Linked DNA regions of Homo sapiens. The protein of the gene in region 2 purifies or fractionates together with the protein of the main gene of each other region. This does not show direct contact. Each region holds a gene or a part of one and is shown on either strand. Other genes may lie near its edges.

Region 1 (5,612 bases), on a different chromosome or scaffold from region 2:
ACCGCCCTGGGACCAGCGGCAGGGGCTTCCCTGCAGACCTTCCAGGACCCATATCCTCACCTGTAAAATGAGTATCTTGTGTCTGCCCTGCCCCCTCCTGGAGGTTAAGTCAAACCACAAGGTAGGGGTGAGGGATGCTGACGGCCATGGGGCCCTCCCTTGGCCCCATCCTTGGCCCCCCCATCCTTGCTTCTGGGGCTCTCCACGAGGTAAAACCTCTCCTCTAGTGGGGACAAACCCCTCCCGCCCACACCTGCTGGACCCAGATTCATTCAAGCCCTTACTCAGCAAACATGCACGGAGCGTCCTGAGTCTTCCTGAGGGGCTCAGGGGGCTCACGAGGCAGAAACCAGCCCTCAGCCGATTCTGAGGGTCTGTCTCGTCCCCCAGTGTGGACCCCAATGACTCCTCTGCCATTCCCATCCTGGGGCCCGCAACCTTCCTGCGTGGACCTTCCCATGCATGGTCTAGCCATGTGCACCCCAGTCCCACAGCAGGAGGGTTGCAGCCGCAACGTCCTCACGCAGGGAGTGATGGCTTTGTTCCAAAGCTGGTCCTCAGGGTCACAGTGCCAAAGCCCTTAACATTCACCTCTAGGGCTCAAGGGGCAGTTCCTCCATTCCTCAGCAGTGGCGCCGGTGGAACTGTGTCCTGAGGCCAGGGGGTGGTCAGGCAGGGCCTGGAGTGGCTCCAGCCCCAGAGCCAGCTCCACAGTCCCCACAGCCACCCATGAGGAGCCAGTGCCAAGGAGGCTGTGATGGGCCGGCTCAGGCCAGGCCCCCACCCTTCCCCTACTGGGCTCCTCCCTGGCCCTTCAGAGGCAGAGAGCCCCGCGGTCCTGTGTCATCTGTCAGGTGCTTTGGCCCAGGTCTCCAGCGCTGCCATTGCCCAGAGACGGCACAGGCCAAGCTGTCCAGTTCAGGGATGGGGAACGGCACCTGGCAGGGCTGTCCCCAAACTGCCTGCCCCACAAGCCAGCTTGTCTTCTCCAGGGAGGGGCCTGTGTTCTCGGCACCACGTGCCTTAAGGCCACCTCCTCAGTCTTGGCCTTGCTGCCCCCTTGCCAGCCCCGTACCCACCTCAGCTGAGTGCTGTCCTCAGATACCAAGGCTGTGGGGCTGGGGGAGGTCCCTGTGCAGGTGCCTGGGCTGCCCGCCTCCCCCACCCCCAGGCCCAAGGGAGCAACAAGGCTGAGGGGCAGAAGCTCTCCAATTGCAACCACTGCCCTTTGGTGGGCACGGGGAGGCCCCTGGCAGGCCCCAGCTTCTGGCTCCAGGCGTTGGTTTCCCTGCCCAGCCCCAGGCAGGCTTTGAAAAGGCTGTGGGCGCCCACCCTTCCTTCCATCCAGGCTCCAGATCCTCAGGCCCGGCGGCGGCGGGGCCAGCTGGGCCTCCCCAGCTCCAGGATTCCGGCCCTTTGTTCCTGCCCAGGATGCACCTGGTGGCCTCTGGCCCTCATTGTTTGCTCTGAGGCCAGCTGAGCTGCATCAGGAGCAAGACATGCCAGGCCCAGGACAAGCAGCCAGTGAGCAGGGGAAGGGTCCCTGGAAACCAACTGGGTCACCCTGGGTGCTCCCCAACTTCTCCAATGGGGCAGGGACCTCACAAGGCTCCAGTTTATCCTAACAGAGGTCCTGCAAAGGCAGAAGAAACATACGGAGGAAGTGATCTCCGAGTCACTGGTCATCATCCTCCAACTCACCCCACCCCACTCAAGATGTTCACCCCATATCTGCTTCTGGGTGTCAGGACAAACAGCAACCCGCTAGCAACCCGGCCTTGGGGATGATCGGCGTAGATGTGAAAGCAGGCCCTGAGGGGAGTGGAGCCCTGGCTCCAGCGTGGGCAGTGACAGTCCTCTGCAGCCCTCATGCCGGGGCTTGCCACTCATCACCCCGATGGCTCTAAGCCACCTGCCCGCTCTCCCTGTGGCCCCAGCCCCATGACCTGCCAGGACTGTACCCCATGTCAGAGTGCCTGATATGAGGGCCCAGAAGGGGGCCCTGCTTTGCAGAGGTGGAAACAAGCCCAGCACATCCCAAGTGTCGGTGGCTGACCTGGGGAGGACCTGTGTGTCCCGACTCCTCAGTGCTCTTCCTGGCAGAAGTCTTGGGTGCAACCCAGCCCTGCGATGGCCTGTCCTTCCCCTCAGGGCACACCTGCTTCCTGCCTGGTGGGTGCCTGCCTTGGCCCTTCTTTTCTGCTTGGCCCTTAAGACTGCAGACCCCCTGCCACCCCTTCCTCACAAACACGGGAGGGTGCAGACAAAAGACCAGACCTTTCAGCACCTGCTCTGGGCCTGGTGCAGTCAACTGGCAAGCTGTGCCCGGTCTCTCCGCACCCCTCCCCCTGCCTCACAGCAGGCTCCCCGAGGCACTCCCAGCCTGAGAGGGCTGGTCAGGTGGAGTCCTCTCCTGTCAGGCAGGAGAGATGGAGTCCTCTCTTGTGCCCGGCCCAGCTCCTGTAGATGCCCAGTAAGGTCCAGACCTGTTGGGGTCAAAGCTCCTGCCAGAATCCAGATCCCCGAATCTCAGCAACCCAGGAGTCTGTCCTCACTCACCTGATGTACGGGGAAGTGGCTGCGAGCATGTTGAGACTGGTTCTGTCTGCCCCGGTCCCTCACCTAAGGGACAACCTAAAATAGAACCCAGGCTACCCCGAGGTTGCACGAAGTGCCGGCCCCGTGGGGCTGGGGCCATAGAGCTGGCCAGGCAGGGCTGCTGGGGCAGGGCGTGGCGTCTGGGCACAGGACCGCAGGCCCTTGAGGGTGCTGGAGGGGTGTAAGGGATCCTTCTGGAATCTCTCCACTCTCCCTGGAATCTCTCCACTCTCCCTGGAATCTCACAGCTTCCCCCTTCCACCTATTAAGCTGTCCCTGAGATCCTGGAACTTTGAGTCAAGGTATAAACGATGCCCTCCCCATAGGTGCTGCCCTGGGAAGCAGCAGAGCCAGCTCCAAATTGAGGGGCACAGCACTGTGGACGGGCCCCGCAGGCCCGTAACTTGGGACAGAAGGATCCCCTCAGGGCCACCCTAATCAGCATCCAAGGCAGCTGCACTGCAGGCGGGACGGATGGAGGATCTGGGAGTGACCGCCCCACCTGGGAGTGGTGGCTAAGGGGTCTGTGCTGCCCAGGACAAGGCCCAGGTGCGCTGGCAGGGACGGCAGTCCCCTGCTGACGTGTGGAGGCCGCTGCACACAGGGCCCGCCCGGCAGGCTCCATGGATGCTTGCTGACCACTAGGGCAGAACCCCTTCCGCACAGCAGAGGACACAACGAAGGGGCTGCTGAGCAGGGAGGAGCTGAGTCCAAGCCCAGTCCTGCCCCAGTCCTTTCACGCCCAGCTCCCAGCTCTACAGCTGTTGCCCACTGCCCACCCCAGGGTACCTGCAGCTGTTGGCACCCAGGGGTGCAGCTCCCAAGCACTTGCAGGTCACAGTGCAACTCCTGGCTTACTCAGGGCCAAGGCAGTTGCTGGGCTCCCAACCCTGAGGAGTCTCCACCTGGGAAGGGCATTCACTACATGCCCTCGTGTGCAGGAAGCACCACCACCATGGGCCTTTTGCATGTGACGTGGACAAGGTGGTAAGTGTTCTCCAGGCCAGCTCAGTGCATTCACAATCACTGTAGTGACTCACACCTGTAATCCCAAGGCTCTGGGAGGCCAAGGCGAGAGGATTGCTTCAGCCCAGAAGTGCAAGACCAGCTTGGGCAACATGGCGAAAAGCCCATTTCTACCAAAAAAAAAAAAAGAAAAAATAAATAAACAAACTGCTGGAGATGGTGGCACACACCTGTGGTCCCAGCTACTCAGGAGGCTGAGGTGGGAGGATTGCTGGAGCCCTGGAGGTTAAGGCTGTGGTGAGCCGTGATCGACCCCGTCTCGAAAAAACCAACAAAAAACAATGCACAGGCAAAAAAGTTTATCTGGTTGCCTCTGGGTAGGATACCTTTTTTCTTTTTCTCTATTTTATACATCCTGACAATTATTTCCAAGATGATACATGCCTCAAAACAAACAAAACCCCTCGAGACACACTCCCCAGCCCCCAGGGAAGGCATGTGTCTGGGCTGTGTAGGGGCTTCCGCTCTCCTGGGGGTAGCTCTGCCACGGTCTCTGGGGTCTTGGCATCTGTCACAGAACCCTAGTGGTTACAGGGCTCACTGTCCCACAGCCCCAGGCCACACGGTGATGTGCTGTGGCCCAGGGGAGGCCACCCTGGACTCCTGGTCAGGATCTGCCCACATGAGGAAGTGCGCCTTGGGGTAGGGCCACAGGCTGGCTCAGAGGTGCCCTTCTCTCCACAGCCAGTCCCAGGAGGGAGCTGGGTTCTGGTTTATGCGACGTCAGAGGGACGGCAGGGAGTGGAGGGCAAGCTAGAAAAGCCCAAGCTTGTTGTTTCAGCCATTTTAATACATTCAAGAATATTTACTAGAACAACATTTAAACGTATCGTCGGTCCGCAGAAGCCTGGGATCGAGAGAAATAGAAACGCGACTGGCCCTTTTGCAGTAAAGCTTGTGCTTGAAGGGAGAAGAGGCAAAGTGGCTTCTTGGAGACTTCGTGCCAGATGCCACAGGACTGAGAGCATCTCCAAATGTCACTTTAAACACGTGTGAGCATCTATAGTCATTCCTAAAGCCCACAGTGTCCTAAGGATCCTATTAGACGAGGCAAAAGGCAATGCTTCTGGAACCCTCTCCCTTGCAGCTCTGCACGCAAACCTTCCCCAAGGAGGGGCCCGAGGCAAGCCTCTAGATAGGCGGGGCCAAGCCCTCCCCGTGCCCACCCTCTTTCCCTGTTGCTGACCTCAGGCCTGATGCTGGACCCATGAGACTCCCAGAGGGAAAACACAGATACAGCCCATCCATCCATGGCCACCTTCCTCCAGAAGATCCTGGGGACCCCTACCCCCCCATCCCATGAGGCACCAGGGCTGGGCTCGCATGGCCAGCAAGGGATAAAGTTGGGAACTGCAGACCAGGGGAAGCCCCCTCATTCTTAGGGCAAAACAGCCCCTGAAGGACAAAATAAATAAACCAAACCATGACCAGACAGCTGGATCCGGACAGGTGGAGTGGCCTCTGTGAAGGCAAATGAGAGCAAAAGTGGGAACTGAGGACACCTAAGTGGAGAGACACTTAAAAACAGTAATTCTCACATGAACATCAGTGGCTCATGCCAACAGCAGAGCTGGCCATCAACAGAGGAACAGCAACAAAAACACAACTCAGACAGGGGGCGGGACGGGGCCAGGAGTCTGCGGGGGTCTCTGATATGCTTTGTGGCATGACTTTGCTTGCCTGGCCTCTCCTTTCTTAGCTGAAAACAGGCATTTCACCAAAGGGCATCCAGCCAGCGGCAGCAGCCTGAGCTCCCAGGCTGACATCTGGGCAGGGCTGATGGGCAGCTTCTGGCCATCTGGTGACCAGGTGTGCCGCCAGCTGCACCCACATGCACAGCCCCTTTCCTAATAACCACATTCTAGGTTACGTAGACACGTTAAACTCCTATTCTAGAACATCGTGCTTGAATGCAGACCCCTCAGCCCACAATCGGGCTGGCTGGGCCTCCTGTGAGCCCCTCATTGCATCCAGTCTGTGGGGCAGTG
Region 2 (8,992 bases):
CCATCCCATATGTGTGCATGTGCATGTGGGCACATGTGTGCACACACGGCTAATGTGTGTGTAGGGGTGGTAGGGCACTGCCCTCGGCCAAGGTGCCTGGAAGCAGCAAGGCAGGCACAGGTGGACCCAGAGACCATCTGAGCATGGCCCCAGGGTGGCTCAGGTGACTGGGCTGGCTGGCTGGGACCCGGCTGGGCAGCAAATGGCTTCTACCTGCACCCAGACCTCTGTGTGCGCTGCACTGCGTTTCCCCGCGAGCCATGCCTGTGGACACTGTGGGCCCCTGGCCTTGCCGCTGCCAGGAGAGTTACTGGACACCCAGATGGTGAGGCTGGGTTGGGAGAGGCTGGGGCTGTTGTGGCCAGAGTGGGGCTCTGGAGGCCTACTGATGGGTTTGAATCCTGATACTGCCCCCACCTAGCTGAGTGTCATGGGCAATCAGGTTCTTCAAGCCTCAGTTTTTTCATCTGTAAAATGGGGCAATGTTTGCCCTACAGGATTCAGGAAAAAGTGAAGTGAGATGATGCTTTGAGGTGTCCAGCACAGCACCGGGCCCACAACAGGCGCTGGAAACAGCAGCCACTCTGGCCTGGCACCTGGGGCAGGCAAGCTGGCCTGGGAAAGACCCACCCCAGAAAGCAGCCCCCAGCACTTTCCTCCTTCCCCCGACCCGGGAGGACCCTGGGGGCTCATCACTTGAGTCAGTGAGGGGCAGCCATTCATTTGTTTCTTTATTCAATCCCTCGCACCAATGCCTCTCTGGCCCAGCGCTGTGTGGGGAGCTGGGACATGGGGTCATGGGACTGCCCCAACCCTCTGGGAACTCATAGGCTGGCAGGGTGGGAGGAGGCAGGCTTGTGGCTGTAACTGTGGGTAGGAGTTTCACGGGCATCTCAGGCTGGCCCTGGACCCCTGGAAGGGGGGCTGGGTTTGGGGGTTAAGTGGAGTCGGTCAGGGATGAGGGTGGGAAGGGGACAGCAGGCAGAGGATGTGGCGGGCAGGTGGCTGAGGCCTGGAGGGACATGGGGAGGGGCCAGGGGCCAGGCTTACAGGGCTTCTGGGTAAAGCTGTGGAGCTGAGACTCTACTGCTTGTGTGGAGCTAGGAGAGGTCTTGACCATGGATGGTGGTTAGCTCTGAGCTCTGGGCAGGTGGACGGGTGTGGGGGGACAAGTGGCAGTGCGGAGTCAAGCAGAGGGTTGGCAAGGCCAGCTCGTTCCCCTGGGCCTGACCCCTCTGCTCTCCGAAGCCACGAGGGCAGGGCAGGGTGATGGTGCACTGGGTCACCTCCTGCCAATCAAACTGTCCTTTTCCCCTTCAGTATTGAAGGGGGCCCCTTGGACTGTGAGAGGGGCAGGGCTCACCTGGAGGGGCAGCCCTGGGGGAGAGTGGGGACCTCAGAGGGCAGCCTCTGGGCCTCTGGAAATGGAGGTCTTTGCTTTCCTCCTGCCTTCTCCAGAGAACAGAAGAAGTCTCTTCCTCTGACCGTCCCATCGCAGGTTCCCCAGGAGGCTAAAACTGTGTGGATTTTAGGACAGAGTTCCCCAGCGTGCCATGTGTTGCCTTCTTTACTGCCCTGTTCAGGAAGCACACGGGGGTGTGTCTTGGGGTGCGGAGTGGCCCCTGACCCTTGACCTGTGTCCATCCCAAGGACTCCAGGGAATGCCACCACCCTGCTCTCGGGGGCCCAGAACTGAGCTCCCGAGCATGTGATGGGTTGGGGGTGTGTGTGAAGTGACTGCCCTGCCAGCCATCAGGGCTTTAGAGGTAGAATCTGGGGCCTGCGAGGGCCCCCAACAATGGCTGGATCTCCCTCTCACAAAGGACTATCCACTCTTCTCCCTTTGGCCTCTCTCAGGGTGGACCTGGGGGAGCTTGTCCATTTGTGCCTTGAATGGTGGAGTGAAAGGCAGAGGACAAAGCCCTAGGTCAAAGCACTGCCAGCCGGAGACTGAGCCCTGGGTTGCCACTCTCCCAGAGATGTACTGTGTGACTCTGGGCCAATCCTATCTGTCTGGGCCTCTGCTTCCGCCTCTGTCAAGTGATGGGGATGGGTGAGCAGGCTGCCCTGTGCTAGGGTTCTCTGGTGGGAGGGAGGGGTGGTCCCGAGGCTGGGTCCACTCACTGGTTCTGCACATCTTGGATGGTGTCGGGCAGCGGCAAGCTCTGGGTCTCGGGCAGAAGCAGTGCGGCCAGGCCACTCAGCACTGGCACCGTCCCATACACCAGCAAGGGCAGCCAGGGGCCATGGACACCCAGCAGCCGGACCAGAGGCCCCAGGATGGCTCCTCCACGGGCTGCCATCTGGCCCAAGCCCACTGCCGTCATCCTGCCAATGCAGATGCACCTATAAGCGCCTGGTCTGTGTGCCCACAGCCTTGATCCTGCACGCCGGGCCAGGCCCGCTTGGCCCAGGGAGACCCAGGGGGTCAGGCTGGGCTTGGGATGCACCTGAGCAGCCCCGGGGACCACACAAGAGGGAGATGCATGACATGAACATCTAGGTCTGGGAGAAGCCAGTCCTGCCTGGGGGTGCCCCGCAGCTCAGCCCAGGGCTCCCCTCTCCTGGAGCCCAGGCCCAGCCTCACCTGAGCACAGTGGGGAAGAGCTCGCTGCTGTAGATGGTGATGCAGGTGAAGGCAGCCCCCACCCCGCCCAGCCCCAGCACGGCCAAGGCTGAGCGCAGAGCCCCCATTTCTGTGGGTAGAGATGGGATTAGTGAGCTTGGTGGGGGGCCCAAGATCAGATGAGGGCTCCCTTCAGCCCAGGGGGCTTGTCCCTGACTTTCAGGCCTCTTTGTAAATGTTTGGGAGTCATCTCCATCTGGGTATCCTGTCCTGAGTGGCCTCATGGCCACACCCACAATCTGCTCCACGCTCAGACACCCAGAGCCAGCCCCGAGGAGTCCTTCTTGACCCCGTTTCCCTCCTCCTGCAATCCATCACTTAGTTCTCATTTTAACTCCACACTTTTCCCTGGTGCCACCCATGCCACTCCTTCACCGCTCTTGCTGGCTCAGTGCAGACACTGCCGTCTGTCCCTAGACGGCTCCGGCAGCCTCCTTCCTACCAGGGTACCTGCTCTAGTCCAGCACCTCCAAGGAGGGGTGCTGTTCCCAGCCCGAGACCCCCCCAAGGTAGGGAAGTCTCTGGTGTACAGCTTTGCCCCCTCACCGTGGGGCACCAGCGTGTTGGCCAGAATGCAGAGCCCTGCCAGCAACAGGGATGCGGCCAGCGTGGGGCGGCGGCCCAGGTGGCTCAGCAGCAGCAGGGCGCCCATCTTGGCTGGGATGTCCACGACACCAATGAACATTTGGAGCAGGAAGATGTTGCTGCCCAGGGCCTGCAGGTCCAGGGCCAGGCCGAAGAAGGTGAAGCCAAAGGCGAACCTGGGGCAGGGGTCAGGGAAGTCAGGGTGGGGGTGGGGGGTGGGGGGGGGTGGTGGGCAGGGTGGGAACAATGGGCGGTGGGGGCTCAGGGTGGGGGTGTGCTGCTCTTAGCTCAGTGTTCTGGCCCTTCAGCTGCCAGCTCTGTGGGGCGGGGCCAGTCTCTAGACTATGTTTATCAGGTCCCCTTGCCAGCATGGCTTCCCTTTGGGTTTGGCTGATGGGAGGTGCTGGCAAGAGGTTGGAGGAGGGGAGAAGCAGGGGATTTCTGCCTCCCTCTCTGCTTGGGGGCTTTGTCTGGGAGTGACTATGTCCCTTCCGTGGCTCCAGCTGCCACTGAACAGTCCTTCCCTCCTTGGCCTTGGCGGTTTTGGTCTTTGCTGGATGGCCATGGGTCCTGGGCTCTGATAAGCCCTCTCCGCCCTCCCTGGCCCCACACCAGGCAGGGGTGCTTGCGGCCCATGCTGTTGCCTGGATCACCCCTTCGTCATGCCTGGCTCCCAGCCCTCCCAGGAGCTTTGTTAGGGATCCTACCTACTGCATCTCTTTTATCTGCCTTGCCCCTTATTAAGGCCCCCTCAGTGAGCCCACCCGGCCTGGGTTGTCTCCTGTCGGGAGTGACTGACAGAGGGGAAGGTGTCGGTGTTGCAGGCCAGTGGGACCAAGCGGAGCCAGCAGAGGCCGGGGCCGTGTGCCAGCGAGAGCCCCGATTCCAGGTTCCCCTGTGGAGGTGGGGTTGGGGGAAGGGCATCTACCAGCACAACGTGGAGATACAGGTCCGGAAGCGCAGTCCGGGCATGCGGAGCAGGGTGCCCAGGCTGGCAGGAGGCTGGCCCATGCTCAGCTCCTCCCGCATGGCTGAAAGCAAGACCTGTGGAGGCGGGGGTGGGTGCTGTTGGCACTGGGGGCGCCAGGCACCTCCTCCTCTCTGAGACCTTCTTCCCAGGGAGCTGAGGTCCTTGGTGGGTCTCCCAGGGTGCCCTATGCAGGGGCAGGGAGAGGGTCTGAGGGTCCGGGTTTGAGGAGGACCCAGCCTTACCTCAGGGGTCAGGGTGTCCTGCACTGCCCCCTTTCCGTTGATGGCAGCCACCCTCCACAGCTCCTGCAGGCCCCAATCCAGCCTGCCTGTGGTGAGGAGCCATCGTGCCGACTCTGCCAGCCACCTTAAGTGGAGGGGGCGTGGGAGGGGTCATTGCCTGTGGCCCCCAGTGCCTGGCCTGCGCCAGCCTCAGACTGCTACCCTGTACCCACTGCTCCAGGCCCAAGGCTTAGGGCGGCTGAGGACCCCGAAGGGCGTTGTGGCAGCCAAGCCCTCTTGGGCACCCTCCTTCCCCAGCAGGAGACCCCTTCTGCTGCCTTTCTCCCTCCTAGGGATTGTGGTTGGGATGCTGTTCTCATCCTGGGGCTGGCTGCTGGGATGGAGGGAGGGATGACTCTGTGGAACCCTTCCTGCCTCCCTCCAGACCCCACAGCCCTTCCCCTGCCTCGCTAGGAACCCGGCCTGGTTGCAGTCAGGGCCCCTAGGGCTACAGGACCACTGGATCCTGGCCACTGCCAGGACCTTGGCCATCTCCAAGGCGACTGGGGTCCACCCCTGTCCTGGCACCTCCCATACCACATGGCCTTCCTGTCCACCCCATGGCTGCATCTTCCTCCTGCAAACAGCTTCACAGCCACCCCGGGGCTCAGGCTGGGACCAGGGTCCCCAACAGCACCAGCGCCCTCTGGCCGCACCCTGTCAGCTGATTCCCACACCTCCAGGACCCCTCGCACCTGAGTCTCTGCTATCTCGGCCTCATGAGCCCAGCACCTCCCCTCCTTGTGGCAGGACCCAGCCCCTCACACTGACCTGTCTCCCACTACCCTCAGTGTCAAACCGAGCTTATGCCACACCGTCCCGCCCCGCCTGCTGAGCGCCTGCCATGCCCACCACTCTACACGGGGCCTGCCTCTAGGCCTTGGCTCCTGCAGGTCCTTCAGCCAGACGTGTTGTCCCCTATGAGCAGCCAGGGTGGGGCCACCTGCCCTACACCCACCGGGGCCCTGAGCTCCTTAGGGATTTGCAGAACAGAGGGGAGAAGTGGAGATTCCAGGTGCATATTAGAGATAGAGCTGATGAAGCCTGGTGACCCAGTGGACTTGGTGGGGGGATGGTGAGGGAGAGAGAGGCGTCATGGCCACTGTGACTCTGGTGAGTTCAGGGGCTGCTCCCCACGCTGGGGAAGACTTGGGGAGGAGAGGTCTAAGGAGATGTGTGTGGGGATGAGACACCTATAATGGAACCGTCACGTGGGCAGTTGGAGGTGTAAGGCTGGAGGTCAGTGGGGGAGGCAGGACCAAGTGGAGATTTGGGGTCTGCAGTATTTGGAGGGAGCTGGGGCTGCAGGCAGGGGTGAGGCTGCCTGAGGGAGAGAGTGTGGACTGTGCCCGCCACATAGCAGGTACCACAAGTGATGGTGGCCAGATCATTGTGGGTGACCCTGGGAAGGGCAGTTTGGGCGGAGAAGAGGGAGAAAGCTGACTGGAATGTGTTGTAAGTGACTGGGAGGGAGAAAGCGGGGTCCCATTCTCAGATGTCAATACCCCAGGTTGTTCGTCAAGCCCTAAGCACAGTTTGTGAGGCCACGATGTGTGGGATTCCCTATGAGCTCCACGTGGGCAGAGACCACATATCTGCTCATAGCTGGTGTCAGCCAGCGCCTGGCACATGGTAGGTGCTCAGTAGTTATTTGTTGAATGAATGAAGTAATGAATGAATGAATGGGCACTTCTTCAGCCCTGTGGGAGCACGTCTACCAAGGAAAGGGGGGTGCAGCTCTGTGGCCCTGCATCAGCATGAGAACCAGGAGGGGTGCCTTGGAATTTTTATCACTGACCTTTACCTTCCACTCTCTACCCTCTTGGTGTTGGGAGTCAAGCTGCCATCCCAGAAGGCTCTTGTCGGACACGATTGCCTCCTTGTGGAGCCACTGTATGAGATGTAATTTTCTCCTGCTCTGAGGAGTGGCTGCAAATTGTTACTCCACTCCAAGCTGTTGGGTGGGAGAGATTTGTGGACTCAGCCTTCTTCTTAGTGTGGGTGCGGGCACCTGCTCACCACTGGGCCTCTGCTGTGCTCCTTTCTACAGTGGTCCCAATGACCAAACAACTACTAAGTGCAGGGCCTGTGTATGAATGATCCAGGCTCAGCCCTGCCCTCAAATGGCCTCCGTCCATCCATCTATCCATTCATCCATCCAGTTCATCCAATTAATCCACCTATCCATCCATTCAACCATCCATCCAACCATCCATCCATCCATTCCATCCATCCATCCATCCATTCATCCATCCATCCACCCATCCATCCATCCATCCATTCAACCATCCATTCAACCATCCATTCAGCCATCCATCCATCCATCCATCCATCCATCCATCCATCCATCCATTCCATCCATCCATCCATCCATGCATCCATCCATTCAACTATCCATTCGACCATCCATCCATCCATCCATTCCATCTATTCCAACTATCCATCAATCCATCCATCCATCCCATCCATCCATCAATTCCATTCATCCATCCATTCCATCCATCCATCCATTCAACCATCAAACCATCCATCCATCCATCCATCTATCCATTCCATCTATTCCAACCATCCATCCATTCCATCCATCCATCCATCCATCCATCCATTCCATCTATTCCAACCATCCATCCATTCCATCCATCCATCCATCCATCCATCCATCCATCCATCCATCCATCTTTTCCAACCATCTATCCATTCATCTATTCCAACCATCCATCCATCCATTCCATCCATTCAACTATCCATCCATCCATCCATCCATCCATTCAACCGTCCATCCATCCATCTATTCCAATCATCTATCCATCCATCCATTCATCCATTCCAACCATCCATCCATCCATCTATTCCAACCATCCATCCATCCGTCTATTCCAACCATCCATCCATCCATCCATCTATTCCAACCATCCATCCATCCATCTATTACAACCATCCATCCTTTCATTCCACCCATTCAACCATCCATCCATCTATCCATCCATTCAACCATCCATCCATCCATCCCTCCTTCCATTCCATCCATCCATCCATTCCAACCATCCATCCATCCATCCATTCCAACCATCCATCCATCCATTCATTCCAACCATCCATCCATCCATTCCATCCATCCATCCATCTATTCCAAACATCCATCCATTCCATCCATCCATCATCCATCCATCCATCTATTCCAAACATCCATCCATCCATCCGTCCGTCCATCCATCCATCCATCCATCCATCCATCCATCCATCCATCCATTCAACCATCCATTCAACCATCCATCCATCCATCCATCCATCCATCCATCCATCCATCCAACCATCCATTCAACCATCCATCCATCCATCCATCCATTCCATCCATCCATCCATCCATCCATCCATCCATCCATCCATCTATTCCAAACATCCATCCATCCGTCCATCCATCCATCCATCCATCCATCCAACCATCCATTCAACCATCCATTCAACCATCCATCCATCCATCCATCCATCCATCCATCCATCCATCCTTTCCATCTATCCATCTATCCATCCATCCATCCATCCATCCATCCACCCATCCATCCATCCATCTATTCCAACCATCCATCCATCCATCCATCCATCCATCCATCCACCCATCCATCCATCCATCTATTCCAACCATCCATCCATCCATCCATCCAACCATCCATTCAACAATCCATCCATCCATTCCATCCATCCATCCATTCCATCCATCCATCCATTCCAACCATCCATCCATCCATTCCATCTGTCCATCCATCCGTCCGTCCATCCACCCATCCATCCATCCATTCATCCATCCATCCATTTATTCCAACTATCCATTCATCCATCCATCCATCCATCCATCCAACCGTCCGTCCGTCTGTCCGTCCATCCATCCATCCATCCATCCATCCATCCATCCATCCATCCGTCCATCCATCTATTCCAACCATCCATCCATCTATCCATCCATTCAACCATCCATTCAATTCATCTATACAATCCAATCCATCTATCCACCAACTCACCCATCCACTCATCCAATCCACACATCTGTCAACCCATTTATTTATCTGTCTCTATCTATCTACCTACCTACCTACCTACCTACCTACCTACCTACCTATCTATCTATTTCTACTTACCTAACAATTCATCCATTCAACAAATATTTATTTAGCACCTACTATGTGCCAGGTGCTCGGCAAGGGCCACGCCTGATTTGTTTCAGGGCAGTGCTGACATTTCCTAACCTCCCACACATGCCGGCCCTCTGTGGGGACTGTGGACTCCCCTCTGATGAGTGGATCCTGGTCCCTGTCTTCCAGCAGACAGACACAAGCATTGATTCTGTCAGCCCATGAAGCAGACTGCGGCTGTGCGCTGTGTGTGCGGGCATGTGTTGTATCTTTCCACTCGCTCCCCTAGCCTAGCTCAGTGCTGCCATGCCTGGCACACACAGAGGAGGGGCTCAGAAGATGGGCCTGGCAGCATAGATGCCAAGGCAGGCAGGGACAGGAGAGGAGAATAGGCCAAGAGATG
Region 3 (8,992 bases), on a different chromosome or scaffold from region 2:
TCCAAGGTGACATTTATGATCATATTCCAGTTAAGAATAAGCTTTTTAGAAAATATCATGTAATCACGGATATTTATTAACCATGATGACTACATGATCCACCTTTATTCACCAGATGCATCTTCGAATGATATCATTTTCAAAATTTAAAAACTCTCCTGAAAGAAAAAAAAACTCTCAACACTGAGGATATTTTAAAAAAATGTTCTGGAGCTGAAACTCCAACAGAAAAGCTCTAGAAGTGTTCCATGCAAGAATATAAATATTCAAATAAGTTTATAACCATCTAAAACAATTTTGAAGGCTAATAAAATATATATAATTTGGGATGTTTATTACAAGTAAAGGTTGAGTGCATACGTGTACGTGTGTGTGTGTGTGTGTGTAACAGTCCATGAAAATATACTTTCCCACATGGTTATTAATCTTTAAGAGGGTGCCAAGTGACATCTCACAAAATGTATTCTCCTCTGCACTATGCAGTATTCAAGAAAATGACATGAGCTTTGTACAATCTTATGATTTTATTGTTAGAGGTCATGTTAAACTAAGAAAATAGTAATTTCAGCTCAAATGTGAGTTAAATCATCAAGTTAAAGTAAAGCTTTTTATTAAGTGAAGCTCTCTCTGCAGAATATCTCACTTAATATACATAACATTTAAATAGACTACTAAAAAAGTGACAGCTGAGGAATGCTTTCACTTCTTTCCATGGTTTCTACTGAATGTCATTTCAGAAATGCCTATACAACACATGACAATGTGGAATGTCTCCTCCCATGAAAGAGCATTTGAGTTGAGCAGCAAGCACACTTAGGGCAGTAACACAGAACTCAAGCGTGTCTTTTTATGGTTAGCCAGCATAACAATGCAAAGATAAACAACCAAAACACTAATAAGGTCAGAAAATACTGACATAGAGGGAGCCATAGTAAAAATGTTATTTGGAAAAAAAAAGTATCAGTAAAATAACAGAAAATATGCATTATTTCTAATATTACCATGCTAGAGATTTCTTTTCTTTTTCTTTCTTTTCTTTTCTCTTTATTGGTAGAGACACCGTCTCCCTATATTGCCCAGGCTGGTCTTGAACTTCTGGGATCAAGTCTCTTGCCTTGGCTTCTCAAAGTGCTGGGATTACAGGTGTGAGCCACTGCATCCAGCCTAGAGATTACTTTTCTAAATGAACACTCAAGGATTTGTTTAAAGAATTTTTAAACTAAGTTACATAAACTGAAGCGTCTATTGATAATCAGTAATAGATCTCATTTCAAAAATAAATCTAACATCCCAATAATTTTTTTCTTTAAGACAGAATCTCGCTCTGTCGCCCAGGCTGGAGTGAAGAGGCATGATCTCAGTTCACTCCAACCTCTGCCTCTTGGGTTCAGGCGATTCTCGTGCCTCAGCCTCCTGAGTAGCTGGGATTACAGGCATGCGCCACCATGCCTGGCTAATTTTTATTTTGTATTTTTAGTAGAGATGGGGTTTTGCCATGTTGGCCAGGTTGATCTCAAATTCCTGAGCTCAGGTGATCCGCCTGCCTAGGCCTCCCAAAGTGCTAGGACTACAGGCGTGAGCCACCATACCCAGCCACCTAATAAATGTTTTGATTGTAATAATGGCTACCTTTACATTGTAAGTATTATAAAAGTAAGTGGTTGATATAAGCTTTTTTATTAGGACATTTTAAAAGTTTGTCAGTGTGTTACACTTACCCAATTATTTAATATTCTATGAATTCTGCTCTTCAAAATATTAGTTTACATTGTGTCCAATTTTTTTTAATCATTAAATATTTATTGTGTACCTACTAAAACAAAATGCCGATACAAAAGGAGATTTAAAGAAAAAAAGAATCAAAGTCCCTACCTTAAGGGTATATAAGGGACTTCTTCCCCCCCACCCCCAGTATCCATGGTATGAAGTTTCCTACAATTTGTCTCTAAAAAGAATCAAATATGTACATGTACGTATGTATAAAAAATTTACTGTAAATGATTAAAAAAAACTAAAACAGGCTAAGTGCAGTGGCTCACGCCTGTAATCCCAGCACTTTGGGAGGCTGAGGTGGGAGGATCACTTGGGCCCAGAAGTTTGAGACTAGCTTGGGCAACACGGGGAGACTCTGTCAAAGAAAAAAAAAAATTAGCTGGAAGTGGTGGCACATGCCTGTATTCCCAGCTGATCGGGAGGCTGAGGTGGGAGGATCACTTGAGCCCAGGAAGGCTACAGTGAACTATGTTCATGCCACTGCACTCCAGCCATGGTGACAGAGTCTGTCACCCTGTCTCAAAACACACATACACACACCACACCCACACACACACCCAACAACTGAAACGATATAAATTGCTATTAGGGTAAAGAAAAATAAAGGTAGTTAAAAATTAAATTCTATGTCCTGAAAAAAGGAGTGTTTCTTGTTGCTGCTGATATATTCTGCACATAATGGTAAGTCAAAAATAATCTTGGCACTTCCTAAAATTTAGGACAATTTCGAATTCTGAGATTAATTTAGATACAGTACTACTGCACTTCAATTACCATAGAAAGGTCTTAAAAGTATGGGCTAGCTAAAACAAATGTGGATGAAGAAAAAAATTATATGTGTGTTTCACTTGATTTTCAGCTAATTTACAGAGAAACCTCCAATTACTAAACACCACCATAATGATGAAAAGATTTAAGAATATTTTCTTCTTCAGACTTCAAAGAAGATACCTGGCATAGGGTAAAGTTTGAGTTTCGGCATCAAACAGACCTGCATAAGAATTCCAGCTCTGCCATTTATTTTCTTGTTAACTTTGAGCAAGTGAAAAAGCATGTTGTGAAAATTAAACTATTGTTTGGAAAAGCACTGCTCCTCAATAAAACACTGATTAAGTCATGGCTACTACATATCTGACTCCAACTGAGAATAAACTTATAATTGTTGGAGTTCTTCAACCTTTCAAAGAGGTATACCAAAATGCCAATACCTCATCATCTTCTCAACCTTATTGTGGAGCCCCACAAACTTTCAAAAGAAGGGTGGAGTAAAAGATGGCAATTTTTTGCAGGCAGAGGCAATGAAAATAGCAACTTCATATAGTGTCAAGAAGTAACATGTTATGGTAGTAACAAAACAACGTTTTATGCCTCCCCCTATTAAAAGGTTTTTAAATAGTTTTCTTTTAAAAATCATCTAATAAGATTTTTAAAACACTTTTCTTATGTGAACTGTAATTTTTAAATGTGGTAATAACAAATGGATGATGAAAAACACTTCCTCTATTCCATCCAGTGTTTCTACCTGGCTATAGAAAATGCTCAGTCACAGCTTGCAATCATACTGTAGCTGAGGCACATGAAAGATGGTCTTGGTTATGACACCTCAAAGTCAGACCACAAAAGTGTTGCCAGGAAGCACAGAGGCAGCAACTACAGAAAAAGCATTAGAACAGCAGCAGTGTGGGCACTGGTGCCCTACCAGCACACCCCATATATGGCTAGGGTTGCCCACTTATTTGTAGGAAGTGAGGGGCCAGTTTGGGGTTGGGAGGGTTTTATTTGTTTGTTTAGGTAGGTTTTTAAAAATGGATTTAGGATGATTTCAATAAAAACTTTTGAAAGGCATGAGCATAAAGTGTTACAGCTTTTCTAAAAAGAAAACTATGCAGAGAAATATTTTACACTGCACATTCTTTTAGACACAAATTTTAATGCTCTTTAAAAGTTATCCAGTAGGTTCTTCCAAGATCTTAACATTCTCCATCAAAAAAAGGGTAAACAGTTACAAACTATAAACTCTTAATTCAGATTTTACATAGTAATCAAACTATTTGCTAACAAGCAACTCAAAATTAATTGCTTCCAGTCTCTTTTACACTTCACATCTTAAGAAGACTACACAAAAGTATTCCCTTTACTGACGAGAGGATCACATATTTTACAAAGATGCTTAAAATGGCTCCCTTAGAAGTAGATCAAATTTGTATTTTAAAAGCAAAAGGATTTCATATTAAACCTATCTGTAAGTCTGTCTGTTTTGGAAAGTAAAAGAAAAACTATTTTAAAATTCTAATAGCATAGAACATGGAACTAATTCTACTTTGTATTCCTCTAGAAGTGGTACCCAACCTTGGCATCAGGAACTAGTTTTGTGAATGACAATTTTTCCACAGATGTGGGTTGGGGAGTGGGGCCGGATGAAACTGTTCTACCTCACATCATCATCAGGAATTAGATGCTCATAAAGAGCACACAACCTAGATACCTCAGAAGCGCAGTTCACAATAGGGTCCGCACTCCTATGGGAATCTAATGCCGCTGCTGATCTGACAAGAGGTGGATTTCAGGCAGTAATGCTAGCTTGCCAGTGTGTCGCTCACCTCCTGCTGTGTGGCCTTGTTCCTCACAGGTCGTGGATCGACCTGTCCACGGCCCAGCGTTTGTGAACCCCCGCTCTAGAGGATCTAGCTCAGACTCTTACAAAGTGAGTAATTAATTAGTGACTCAACTGGATATAATATTTTTCTACCACTTAACCAATATCTAGACTGCTTTAAAATTTAATAGAAAGGAGGTCGATATTAAGAATTTTTTAGGCCGGCCACAGTGGCTCACACCTGTAATCCTAGCACTTTGGGAGGCCAAGACGGGCGGATCACTTGAGGTCAGGAGTTCGAAATGAGCCTGGCCAACATGGTGAAACCCCATCTCTACCAAAAATACAAAAAAAATTAGCCAGGCATGGTGCCACGCACCCGTAATCCCAGCTACTTGGGAGGCTGTGGCAGGAGAATCACTTGAACCTGGGCGGCGGAGTTTGCAGTAAGCCAAGATTACACCACTGCACTCCAGCCTGGGTGACAGAATGAGACTCCATCTCAAAAAAAAAAAAAGATTTTTTTAAAATCTCAAGATATTAAAATATATTGAAATCTACAACAAAGTTTTTAATTTGTTTCATAATCACACAAATTCCATTATGTGCAAGAACAATACGCTAAGTATCTGATGCGAAGGTTTCAAAAATATATCTCACAACATAAAAATAACTCTAAAACTTCCTATTGATGAGGTAAAAAGATAAAAATTCAATAAACCTTTAGTGAGCATCTACTATGTGCTAGGCTCTGGAAATACAAAAATTGTGGAAGATTAGGTCCTCAGAGGCTACAAGGGAAGACAAACACAAACACTATTCAGTAAAAAGTGTTTTTATTGCAGGAGAGGCAGAATATAAGGTACAGTGAACACCCCAGAAAAGAGAATGTGAATCTTGAACAATGACTAGAATTTTAATTGGCAAACGAGGGAGAGAGGATAAAAGGCATGGCTAAAGGCATGGAAATAAAAAATGTAAAGATCTAGTTGAAACGTAAGCAAGTTAACCAATTTCTATAAAGGATACAACACAATGGAGATGTATCAACCATAAGCTAAATGATAAAATGTACTATATCCAAATTTAGAGAGAGGAATAACACCATCAAAATGATACTGTTCAAAGATTAATATGACAGCAATATGCATGCTAGATTAAATAAGGGAGAGAATAGAGGCAGGAAAAACAATTAAGCTATTACTATACTCTAGGGATAAAAATAAGGCTAGGTGCGGTGGCTCACGCCTGTAATCCCAGCACTTTGGGAGGCCGAGGCAGGTGGATCACCTGAGGTCAGGAGTTCGAGACCAGTCTGATCAACATAGAGAAACCGCATCTCTACTAAAAATACAAAATTAGCTGGGCATGGTGGCACACGTCTGTAATCCCAGCTACTTGGGAAGCTGAGCCAGGAGAATCGCTCGAATCCGGGAGGTGGAGGTTTCAGTGAGCCAAGATAGCGCCATTGCACTCCAGCCTGGGCAACAAGAGCAAAACTCCATCTCAAAAAAATAAAATAAAATAAAATAATAAAGGTATGAACTAGGTTGCCAGTAAAAAGTGGCAAAGAAAAGAACTGATGCCAAGGTAATTGTAAAGAAAAGACTGAGCTAGAAGACAGACTGGATTATGCATAGACAAGGGGAATGAGTAAACAATAACTAAAATGTTTAACTTGATTCTAAAGATTAATACATCATTAACAGAAACAGGAACATCAATGAGAAGAGTAGACTTGATGAAGAAAGATAGACCTGTTTTAGGTTGAATTTAAAGAAATTCCTGACGATGTAAAATTGTCTTACCACCAAATTAATAATACTTTTAAAATAATTAGTTAAAAAGGATGCTGGTAAAGTCTAAAGATAAGTATCTCTAATGTTAACGGATAAACGTAAAATTATAATACTGAATTGCAACTATGAAAATCTATATTTGAACAATAAGAAATCCTTTGAAGAAATCACAAAGGTTAACGTGAATACAGTAGTTGCCATTCTATGGCAAAGGGGGTGAACTTGTATTTACTATATTACTACTTAAAAGACATTATTAAATATAAAATTACAATACATTTAATATTTCATTTCAAATCAATACATAACCCCAAAAAATGGAAATGAGGCTTGGAGCTTTGCAGAAATGAGGGAACTGTAAACTGACTTGGAAGTCACTGGCACAGAGGAAAAAGAAAAGATTTTAAGGCTAAAATCAACAGGCTAAACTCAAAACTGCTGGAGAAAAATCTCAGCCCTGTATTTTATGCACACCAGTATCAGTAAGAATCAGCAATAAGGCATTCTATATATAACTTTATTAATCTCCTTAAATCTTTACAAAATATGCTAAAATAGAGATATAATCACATACTGTAAAACTCTACCAGGTAGCTATAAAATCAGAAGCTGATTATTGCCCCATTGGTAATAATGAAATTCTACTCTAGACCTCGGTTCTAGAAAAACCAGAAATTTGTATCTATGGTTAACTTTGTGCTGTTTTGTAGCTTTGGGGGTCAGGTCCTGGGTAGAGTGGGTGGGGGAGAAAGGCTACTCTGGAGACTAAGATAGGAAATTTGACAAGAAACGCTGCTTTTTCTTCTATACAGAGGACACATTTCTATACAAAAAGAACAGCTGAAGACTGGATATCTTTTATAACTTCTAATGAGGTAGCACATTCAACAAATTAATAAACCTTTAAATATAAGCTCTTTAAAGTAAAAGCAAAATATTCGATTTTCAAAAGCATATTTGTGGGTTGTGATGTTCCTAAAACTTTTCTCTTGACAATGAAATTTAGAACACTTGATCAAAACCAGAAAGTAAATGAATATTCAAAAAACAATCAACAATTAACCCCGTTATACATTTTAGGTATTCTACGATCTTTTGAGAGGTTAAAGTTTTAAAGAACTATTCAAGGACTATTAAATCAGTGATTTTAGTTTTTACAATTAAGTATGGAAAACAAGCTAAGTTCAAGAGATTTCTTAAAGGCTTAAAATTTTCTTGTGTGTGTGTGGTTTTTAATTTTATTTATTGTCTTTCACTAACTGTTGTCCTAAATTTGCCCAAAGTGAACTCCCTGTTTTCATAGTAACAATGGGAAAAAAGTACAAGAGTTGATAAATAAGAAATGAGAGTGAAGAAAACATAACACAAATTTTTAATGCTTGATATTTTAAAGACTTTGGCTTCACCGATTTAAGGCATTTGCAGATATGGAAAAATGTTATGGAAAAGGGGAGGCGGTTGGAGATTATCGGGTCAAACCCACACTCACAGTGACAAAAAGTGACAGAAAGATATTACGCAAATGGAGTAAATTTAGAAACTTCTGTTTGTCAACTAAAACAAAATACCCAATAAAGATATATCTACACAACACCAAACTGACCACTGAATTCAGTTAATCAGGAAGACATTGGTAAGTCTGACAATTCTTGTAACGTGTGAATATTGAGAGGAGAAAAAAAGATCTTAAGAAGGCAGTTAAATGTATTTTCTCTTCCTCCCTAAACCAGTATCACAATAATGTAAATATCAAAACTTTTCGTCTTCCTCTAAGCCAATACAACTGGGTTCCTCCACAACAATAGTAACTTTAAATTTCTATTTGACAATTTGAATAAAACATATTGATGCGAACCATTATCCAATTATCCTGACCTCCTACAGTAATAATCGTCTTTCAAAATCTGTTTCACACTAAAACGTGTAAAGTACACTTGAAAGAAATTTGAAGATTCATCTTATATAATTACATTATCATTTTTAATGCCAAAAGTTTCCTTCATTCTCAACACCATGGTTTTAAAATTTTACGAGTTATGATATGCCTTAAATAAACTTCACCCAAATAAAAAGTTTGCTATGCATTAGAGAATCTAAATTAATGAAATTGAGAAAGCGCTAGACACCCTGCTATATTTTTACTGGGTGCCACATTTTTAATTCCATATTTGTCCTGCAATGTGTCAATCATTTCAATATATCCAGTCAACTTTGTAAACAAAGGCTATACTCCAAGTCTGATAAGAGAATTCCATTACACAAAATTTAAAATGGTCATCACTCCCTTAAACAGTAAGCAGGACAAGGAAAAATGTCACTACACACCTTTTTTTTAAAAGGCATCAAGTTAATATTCATGAAATATAAAGCCTTGAGTTTCAACCTCCCAAACAAGTTTTTACTACAACATTATTCAAAATAAGGCTATGCATCTTCCACACACAACCAAGGCAACTTTGAGATAGCTTACAAGTCTTTTCATTGTTAAGGGGAAGCTATCGCTGCAAAGTCATTTTCTATTACAGTTATTCCAAGTTGCCCGCTAAGAAAATAGAAAAAGCCTATGTTTTGTCACCTATTACCGTCACTTAAAAATTGCTTTTTATGCATAACTCTACGTGGTTGTGTTGCTTTTGGCCTGTTAAAGGCAAGGCAACATTATCTCTGGATTGCCAATAGTTTCTCCTTATTTGGCTAACATTGAGAGATCCCAATCAGACTACTATAAAACTTTAATATGCACAAAGCATCCATTTTGAGAAAAGTTTGTGACCAGCTTTCTTTTTTCCCAACCCCAAAAGAAAAACCAGAGCTTGGTAACCGG
Region 4 (8,992 bases), on a different chromosome or scaffold from region 2:
CACACTGGTCTTTCCATCAGAGAATGGACTTACTGAGTAACTGCAGCTTTTTCTCTCTAGAATCTAAGGGCTGAGAAGAGAGAATTTTAAATGTGGAGGAGATGTTAAGAATCAGTGTCCAACTCTCTTATTTTATAAACGAGGAACTTGAGGCCCATGTAAATTAACAGACAGTATTTATCTTTTAATAACAATCTTTATCACTGATATGAAGCTGTTTGACTTCCATAAATATTGCACATATTTTAATAAGATTTATAGACCATCTAACAGTTAAATTTATATAACCTATGATTGTAATTCAGAACCAGAGTTTCTAATGAAAACTAATAATTTGCTTTTGTGCAACCTGAAGGATTTATTGTATAAGATTCCTAAGAAAAATGGTGAATATGTTTAACTAGAATTTCAGAATGAAAACTTACAGAATCTGGGTCTTAATGAACCAAATCCTCTGTAAAATTCAACAATCTTCTATTTCTTATATAAGTCTTCTTAAAGTATTTCTAATATGATGCTTTTAAAATTATCTAGTGGCATCTGAGAACACTTATAGAAGCTGCAAAGCCTTAAAAACTGAATCATAATGAAATATTTATTATATACCTTCTTTTGCATAATCAAAGTTTCAAGACCTGAATCGTGAATATTCTGACAATCCTCTCTAGATAGTGAGTGAGATTCTTTTTTTTTCCAAGGCAGTGTCTCTCTCTGTCACCCAGGCTGGAGTGCAGTGGTTCGATCTCATTGCAATCTCCGCCTCCCAGGTTTAATCGATTCTCGTGCCTCAGCCTCCCGAGTAGCTGGGATTACAGGCAAGTGCCACCACGCCCGGCTAATTTTTGTATTTTTAGTAGAGACAGGGTTTCGCCATGTTGGCCAGGCTGGTCTCCAACTCCTAACCTGAAGTGATCCGCCCACCTTGGCTTCCCAAAGTGCTGGGATTACAGGCGTGAGCCACCGCGCCCAGCCGAGATTAATTCTTAATAAATTAAGAAGAGAGAAAACCTGTCAAGGTTGAAAATATGCACTGAAGGAATCAGATCTGGTAGTTAAAAATAAGTCACTTCACAGAACACTGTACCCTGACGCAATATCCACCCAGGGAAAATTAATGAGCACATCAATGTAATACATCCTGAATAAATAATGACATCAACAATAGCCACTTTGTCTAATCCTACCCCTAAATGTCAAGCATTTTGTCATATTACTACATGACTTTCCAGTGTCTGCTACTTGTGCAGGTGAATCTGTAGGTATTTGCATATAATCCAGTTAAAACTGTGATCTGATTGAATTGTAAACAGAATTGACAAGAGAAACTTATTGTAGTGCCTAATATCACTTACATTTTAAGAAGACAGTATGTAGCAGCAATTTAAAATGCTCAGTAAACTATAGTACAAATGGACATCTATACTATTTAGCAAACCAACATTCCTTTAATATCTCTATATCATAGTGACACAAATGAGGAATTACTTTACATATTGCCAGTTTATTTCTTTGAACCAGTTTAACAATATCAACATAATTGATTACTAAACTGACATGATATGTACTCAATGGAGACTTTTCTTTCCATTCTCCTGTTTAGTGCAGAGGAGGTTCTTTGGTGCCTTCCTAACAACAGCTCATCTATGGAAGTTATACTTTTTATACCATTCAAACTCAGTGCTAAGGATTTAAAATAAATGCTGCCAGCTGAAGACACATTTTTCTCCTCCTTTCCTTCCTCCCTTCCTTCCATCATTCTCCTGTATGTAAACTCACGGTACCTAGTTGGTTAAGGATGAGTGTTGCTATAAAGATAACACAGCACGAAAGAGCCTATCTTTGTTTCCAAAGTGATGAAAGTATTCTAGGGAGATTTCCAGTTAATGACTTCTCATTTGGGAGATAATCAGTACTTTCTCTTTAAAAATGTATTTTCAGTAACTCACTGGAAATAATGGGTTCTTATTTCGGGCAAGAAATGTATTGTCAATTTTTGCCTGGACATCACTTTCAGACCCGTGAAATGAAGCCCAGGCCGAGGCTGGCTGGAATCTGGATGGTTTCTAGTGCGAGGGAAGATGGGTTGAAAGGAAAGGTGACAGGAAAGATGTGTTTAGCATCCATGAGCAGCTGGGGAGAGTCTTTCCTGTCTCGTAAACGCATCTGAGAAGATTAGGAAAAAAAATAAACAGAGCATCAGTTCTTTGAATCTAAAAGACTTTTTTCTACTAAAATTTCTACCCTCAAATTCTCAACTAATGAAGAATGTTTACTTTTGTTTTAAACTCACTTCATTTTCCCAATTAACTATTATCAAAAAAGTTAGTGCATTGTAAAATAAGATAATAAAAGATAACACATTATCCTTCAATAAATTACAAAATGTCCATTCAAAAGACTGTGTTGGTGAATCAAAGAAGAAGATGGGAGCTCTTACCTGTATAGTACGAATGAACGACACAGAGACTCTTTCTTCAAACTCATTAACTGGAGTATACAAATTCAACACTTTCACAATCTGTGAGAAATGAAATGATCAAAGTTTTTGGCATATTATCAAATACACACTGGGTACCTATAATCTGGAAAATTAAAAGGATCTGTGCGTACAGATTTCAGTTCTACTCAGGGGTGGGCTGGGACCAGAAGGAAGGAGGAGCTGGTCTGCACATTTACCTTTATCTGAATTTTTACAAGAGAATGTATCAATGTAATGTTTGTGTAATATTGTAAGAAGCTGTGTAAATTTCGAAGATATTCAAATAGCACAAGAGAATAAAACATGAAAAATAAATGTCCGCACTTCCATCCTTCCAGTCTCCCAAAGTGGCAATTGTTAACCATGTCCTGAACACCCCCTCTAGCTGCTATAAATATTCTAGTTCATTTTATTTTTATACAAATGGGATTCATTCTATTAATACTATTCTGCAACTTTTCTCCATATAAAAATGTTAGCCGTATTAATACAATTATCTCTTTTGAATGTTTTTTAAATCATATTTTTATAAAAGATCATAAATAACATGAATAACAAAAGCCCCTAAAGAAATTAATCAATTAGAGAGTATGAAGTTCTTTTTTAAAAAGTTCAATAATTTTTTTTTGTAAAATGGTCATGTCTCTTTTCTAATGAAAATAAATCATCGTCTATATAAGGTAGATATTTCCATTTTCAAGGTATTGTCTAAACCTGTGCTGTCCAATACAACAGTAGTAGTCACTAGCCACATGTGGCTATTAACACAAAATGAAAATAAAAGTTGAATGCAGGACAGTGCTGATCTATAGGAAAATAAATTAAGCACCAGAGAACTAGAAAGTGGGCATGTTGTTATCAGGTCTGTGGGTGACAAACTGAATTAGGGATCAGTCTCTCGGAGGCAAGTATTTGAATTTTAAAAAGTGGGACCACTTTGTTAACTAATATTTGCTAAATAAATAAACTGCAGGTCTGCCTCACTCTGTGAAATATGCTTAAAGTATATTTAAGTATTAAAGTATATTCTTTAGAAGTTGAATGGCAGCCAACTTCTATAAAGTTGGGCTTCCTCCAGGGTATTCTTACTTTCCACACTTGCAGAAACTGGGAGGAAATCTCAGGACCATTGTTCTGTCAGATAGTTCTGCTTTATTCTTAGTAAGAAGTTATGCAAACATGAATTCAACATTAAGAAGCTGCAAGTCTTGATTCTGATTGTCTACTGATTGACTTTTTTTTTTTTTGAGATGAAGTCTCTGTGCAGTGGCACAATCTTGGCTCACTGCCACTTCTGCCTCCCAGGTTCAAGTCATTCTCCTGCCTCAGCCTCCCAAGTAGCTGGGATTACAGGCACCCGCCACAATGCCTGGCTAATTTTTGTATTTTTGTAGAGATGGGGTTTCACCATGTTGGCCTGGCTGGTCTTGAACTCCTGACCTCAGGTGATCTGTCTGCCTCAGCCTCCCAAAGTGCTGGGATTACAGGTGTGAGCCAGCACGCCTGGCCTACTGATTTTTTCTGTTGCCCAGGCTGGAGTGCAGTGGTGCAATCTTGGCTCACTGCAACCTCCGTCTCCCAGGTTCCAGCAATTCTCCTGCCTCAGCCTCCAGAGTAGCTGGGATTACAGGTGCCTGCCACCATGCCCGGCTAATTTTTGTATTTTTAGTAGAGATGGGGTTTCACCATGTTGGTCAGGCTGGTCTCAAACTGATTGAGTTTTAATTGTATTGGGCAAAACTGAAAATTTCATATGTTGTAGGATATATGATGAACATTAAGAAAGTTGGCTGGGCACTGTGGCTCACGCCTGTAATCCCAACACTTTGGGAGGCTGAGGCGGGTGGATCATGAGGTCAGGAGATCGAGACCATCCTGGTTAACATGGTGAAACCCCATCTTTACTAAAAATACAAAAAATTAGCCAGGCGTGGTGGCAGGTGCCTGTAGTCCCAGCTACTCCAGAGGCTGAGGCAGGAGAATGGCGTGAACCTGGGAGGGGGAGCTTGCAGTGAGTGGAGATCATACCACTGCACTCCAACCTGGGCGACACAGCGAGACTCCGTCACAAAAAAAAAAAAAAAAAAAAAAAAAGAAAGAAAGTCTAAGAGTCAGCACAGAAAATAACCGGGCAAAAGAAAATTGGGCATGTTCATGCCTGTGCCTTGCTTCATGCTGTCACTATAATCCTCAAATGCCCTTCTCATTCTTCCACTTCCTTAAATTCAATGCCCAGATTAATGGGACCTTCCCTGAATACTGCTATCTTCCCTCAGTACTTCCTTTAGGCATCTTACTACAGAATTTGCTAGAACCTCTACGGTAGAGTCAGTTGGATACGACTCTGTCTTCCCTACTGAACTGTAAGCTCCTTGAAGGCAGGAATTTTTCCTTATTTATTGAAGCATCTTCCCCAGCAATAAATATGGTGCCTTGAGATGGAGGCTTAATTAATCATCTGTTGAAGTAACAAGAATTATCTGTCTCTAAAAACAAAGTCACTATTTGATAATCCACTCAATTATCAAATAAGATAGAAAGCTATTTTATGGAATATAAGCTGCATAGACTGTATACTCCATGAGAGCAGAGACTTTGTTTTGCCTATGGGTGTATCCCAGTGCCTTCAATGTTATATAGAACACTGTAAGTACTCAATAAATATTTGCTGAATATTAAATATATTTATACTGTAATTAGCACTGAAATGTATTAATTTCTGGCAAAATCTCCTTGCTTTAAGATTGGTAGAGGCATATATCTTCTTGAACACAGATGAAGTCAGCTCAGAGATACAAGCAATAAGTAGAGGACTTCTTTACTTCCCTAAAGATCATCTTTGATGAATGTTAAATTATTTTGTAACAGGGAAAGTTGCTCTACCTGGGCAGTAGTTAAAGCATTGCACATAGAACAAATGGCTTCTGCATCATCATCTGTTTTCTTTTTCACTTGCAAAAGTTGAGCAGCCTGAATGAGAGGTTCCAGGGTTTCTTTAGCCCCACTATTCATCAGATTCTTGTCACGCAGCCATTCTTCCAGTTGACTGACATTGTACCTATGAAAAAAAAGAGATACAGAGAATGCAAATTTGCTGAATTTTGTCAAAAATGTCTTAATTTTTTTGTGTGCGGCCTTGTCAGGATTTATGTTAAAATGACAGGCAGTATTTTTGTTCAATTTTCTTAAATCTCATCAGCTGTGCTTAAAAATTTATTATAGTCATGAGGATTATAATCACCATTATATAAGACTAAATGACAAGATAATGTAATTCTCTTTAATGGAAGATGGAAATGAAGTCATTATGGCAAAAGTTATTAGACTTGCTAATAAACAAAATAGAATAACATAATGTAGCTCTGTCTTTATTGGGGAGCTGGCCAGAAAACACTTTGTAGCTTCTCTTACAATTTCAGAGCTGGGTTGCTGTTGCAGGGTGAGACTTGATAATCCTTGAAGCACTCTCTCTTAAGGCAAACTCCAAATCAGGTAACTGAATAACCAAAAGCCCCACATATACCTGTGCTGAAGCCTTAAGGGAAGAGCCTAGGAGATGAAGATGGTGGCCTGAGAAAGCTCCGGGATGAAAGGAGAGAGAGGCAAGGGAGGGCCACTGGAAGAGACAAAGACTCCAAATGGTGACAGAGACAAACTACAAAGACATTGTAGGTTTCACAAAATAGCCAACCAAGTGGCAGCAGTCCTAAGACTGAGGTCAATAGACACACAATCAGCACTTAGCAACCAGGCAAATAGGGGCCAGCATAATATTGCGACAGGTGGCTCCACATTTCCATGCAGAGCTTATAGAGAAATATGCTCCACTATCTGAGAGGAAGGCATTATTGTCTTAAAATTCACTACACTTCAATGTAAGTCAGGATGGAAAATTTGAAAAGAACACTAACAGTTCCTGAGATTGAGTAACTACTAAGACTTTGATAGGAGAAATCATTTTTCCCTCCTCTTGGTGAATATTCTAGCTGTTTTAAAATAAAAAATTTGTGGCCCAGCACGGTGGCTCACACCTGTAATCCCAGCATTTTGGGAGGCCGAGACAGGTGGATCACCTGAGGTCAGGAGTTTGAGACCATCCTGGCCAACATGGTGAAACCCTGTCTCTACAAAAAATACAAAAATTAGCTGGGTGTGGTGGTGCATGCCTGTAATCCCAGCTACTTGGGAGGCTGAGGCAGGAGAATTGCTTCAACCCAGGAGGCAGAGGTTGCAGTGAGCCGAGATGGCGCCATTGCACTCCAGCCTGGGCAACAAGAGCAAAACTCCATCTCAAAAAAAAAAAAAAAAAAAAAAATTTGCAAAAAAATTATGTTACAATAATGAGGTTATGCTGAGGAGTATTGGGCATAAAATTAAGTGCAGCTTTTCTTAAAATATAGAGGGGGGATATTTTAAGAATTAGTAAAAGATCTATCAGACCTGTTCTTGTTGCCATAGGTACAAAAAGGTATTTTTCCAAAAATATATTTCTAAGAGCAATCAAACATTAGAAATCTTCATTATTATAATTTAATAATTTCTTATTGTATAATTAAAACACACACATAAGGAGAGGAAGCAGCTATCTCATCTTTGTGTATTTTTGCATCATCTCTTCACTCCCCCAAATAAGCAAGCTTCACAGTGGAAAAGGGTTTCCTATCAAGAATGTGAAGAACCTGTTGGCAGGGTACAGACAGGGAGCAATAATGAGATGTGGTGAAATCCAGCCAGGCAAGGGAAAGTGGCTCCGTGCCAGTTTCTCCCTTGCTGCTTGGCCACATGGCACCAGACATGAGATGCAAGAACTGAAAACAAGTCATCAGCTCTCCACAACCCTGGCAGGCCAGCTGGGCAGCAAAAAGACACTGTCGCAGGTGTTGGCATTTGCTCACCTGATCTGCATGCCTTTACTCCAGGAGCACATGTCCTTCCGCAGGAGAAGGTTGTTCAGGGTGATGGCCCCTATGATGTAGAACATCTGCTTGACCACCTGCTTGATCAGTTCAGGGTCCATGCCATGCTGACACATGACCGAGTGGAAGGAGTTGAGCTGCCGGAGGATGGAGTCCAGTGTGTAGGTGCCCTCATCGGCGATACTGGAGGTTCGCTTTCTCAACCCTGTGGGCTTCACCCCAGACACGCCCTGAATCGTTTCATGTTCCAGCATGCCTGAGACTGCAGGAGTATTTCAATTGTTAGAGGAGATGATGTGGAAGGGAACCTTTCATGTGCACATATCCATGTGCACAAACACATGCACATTCAACTTAGGAAAATTAGCTGGGCACGGTGGCTCACATCTGTAATCCCAGCACTTTGGGAGGCCGCCGAGGTGGGTGGATCACTGGAGGCCAGGAGTTCAAGACCAGCCTGGCCAACATAAGGAAACCCCGTCTCTATTGAAAATACAAAAATTAGCCAGGCGTGGTAGCGTGTGCCTGTAATCCCAGCTACTCAGAAGGCTGAGGCAGGACAATCACTTGAACTTGGGAGGCAAAGGCTGCAGTGAGCTGAGACCACATATCTGGGCTCCAGGCTGGGTGACAGAGAGAGACTCCATTTCAAAAAAGAAAAAAATGATCTGGGTGCCAAAATAGAGGGAAAAGGAACTTCACTACAAAAGGGCTTCCGGATTTTAAACTTTACTGAAGGAATAATTCTTAATTGCAAAAATTTACTATGAATCTAAGTAAACTTAATGGTGTCTTTTCTAAAATAAGAAGCGTTAAGAAGCAGTAGCCTTGTGATAGAACAAGTGTGTGTGTCTTGGGTGGGCTTTTGAGAGTGGTAGGTAGCAGTTCGGGTTAAGATAAGCATTCTCCATGTTATCTGAGCCCCAGAGGCAAAAACAGTAAGAAAAGCAGGGCACTGACAACCATCTTGGAGAAAACGTGGGAGAGGGGAGTGGTATGGGTCTGGAGAGCTGGGCCCTTCCTTATTCTGGGTTTCCCACAACAGCAGTGGGCCCTTGGGCTGACCTCCATCTCCCAGAATTCGTCTTCTCACCTGTGGCCCGGCTGCTTCCCTGTTGTGCTCTCTTAGCATTTGGCTTATGCCTCCCTTAGAATGTTTCTGAGATGTCCACTCCCTGACAGCAAGCCCCTTGAGAGCAAAGGCCACGTCTGGTTCATCTTGCTATTTAATTGTGCTAAACACAGATTCCCTAGAACCGGCATGTTTGTTGTTGCTGTTAAATGACTGGGAGATGGGGGTAAGGATTTAGATTGGGGCTTCTTTGAGGCGAACTTCTTATTCAGCCAATAGAAACAGGCAAAGCAATAGAAAAACTGGCTGAAGTTGACCTTGGTATCTGTGTTACCTCCTAAATTTTTGCCAACCTAGGGTGCTTTAATGACGTTTTAAGGGACATCTGAAGAAAACATTGCCATCTCCCATGGCTTCTTCAGCTTTTGATGTCTCAAATAGCTAGTTAACTGTGGCCTATGAAAGCAAAGGGAACACTATGAGCCCACAGAAGGGAAATGAAGAAGTTGTGGAAACATGGAAAAT

The links.
Region 1: the proteins of SLC22A12 (region 2) and SPECC1L purify together in Homo sapiens (affinity purification with mass spectrometry; one large-scale study listed by BioGRID and IntAct). This does not show direct contact.
Region 3: the proteins of SLC22A12 (region 2) and PPP1R12A purify together in Homo sapiens (affinity purification with mass spectrometry; one large-scale study listed by BioGRID and IntAct). This does not show direct contact.
Region 4: the proteins of SLC22A12 (region 2) and MYO5A purify together in Homo sapiens (affinity purification with mass spectrometry; one large-scale study listed by BioGRID and IntAct). This does not show direct contact.

What each region holds. Positions count from the first base shown.
Region 1 is NC_000022.11:24,416,035-24,421,646, reverse strand, and holds the end of SPECC1L (cytospin-A), read right to left. Parts: 3' UTR 3,909-5,612; downstream 1-3,908. UniProt on the Homo sapiens protein: Involved in cytokinesis and spindle organization. May play a role in actin cytoskeleton organization and microtubule stabilization and hence required for proper cell adhesion and migration.
Region 2 is NC_000011.10:64,594,071-64,603,062, reverse strand, and holds the end of SLC22A12 (solute carrier family 22 member 12), read right to left. Parts: intron 4,548-8,992; coding exon 4,424-4,547; intron 4,256-4,423; coding exon 4,140-4,255; intron 3,388-4,139; coding exon 3,173-3,387; intron 2,697-3,172; coding exon 2,588-2,696; intron 2,329-2,587; coding exon 2,125-2,328; intron 1,576-2,124; coding exon 1,512-1,575; 3' UTR 719-1,511; downstream 1-718. UniProt on the Homo sapiens protein: Electroneutral antiporter that translocates urate across the apical membrane of proximal tubular cells in exchange for monovalent organic or inorganic anions. Involved in renal reabsorption of urate and helps maintaining blood levels of uric acid.
Region 3 is NC_000012.12:79,924,896-79,933,887, forward strand, and holds part of PPP1R12A (protein phosphatase 1 regulatory subunit 12A), read right to left. Parts: intron 1-8,992. UniProt on the Homo sapiens protein: Key regulator of protein phosphatase 1C (PPP1C). Mediates binding to myosin. As part of the PPP1C complex, involved in dephosphorylation of PLK1. Capable of inhibiting HIF1AN-dependent suppression of HIF1A activity.
Region 4 is NC_000015.10:52,311,686-52,320,677, forward strand, and holds part of MYO5A (unconventional myosin-Va), read right to left. Parts: intron 7,658-8,992; coding exon 7,375-7,657; intron 5,538-7,374; coding exon 5,363-5,537; intron 2,519-5,362; coding exon 2,438-2,518; intron 2,164-2,437; coding exon 2,011-2,163; 3' UTR 1-2,010. UniProt on the Homo sapiens protein: Processive actin-based motor that can move in large steps approximating the 36-nm pseudo-repeat of the actin filament. Can hydrolyze ATP in the presence of actin, which is essential for its function as a motor protein. Involved in melanosome transport.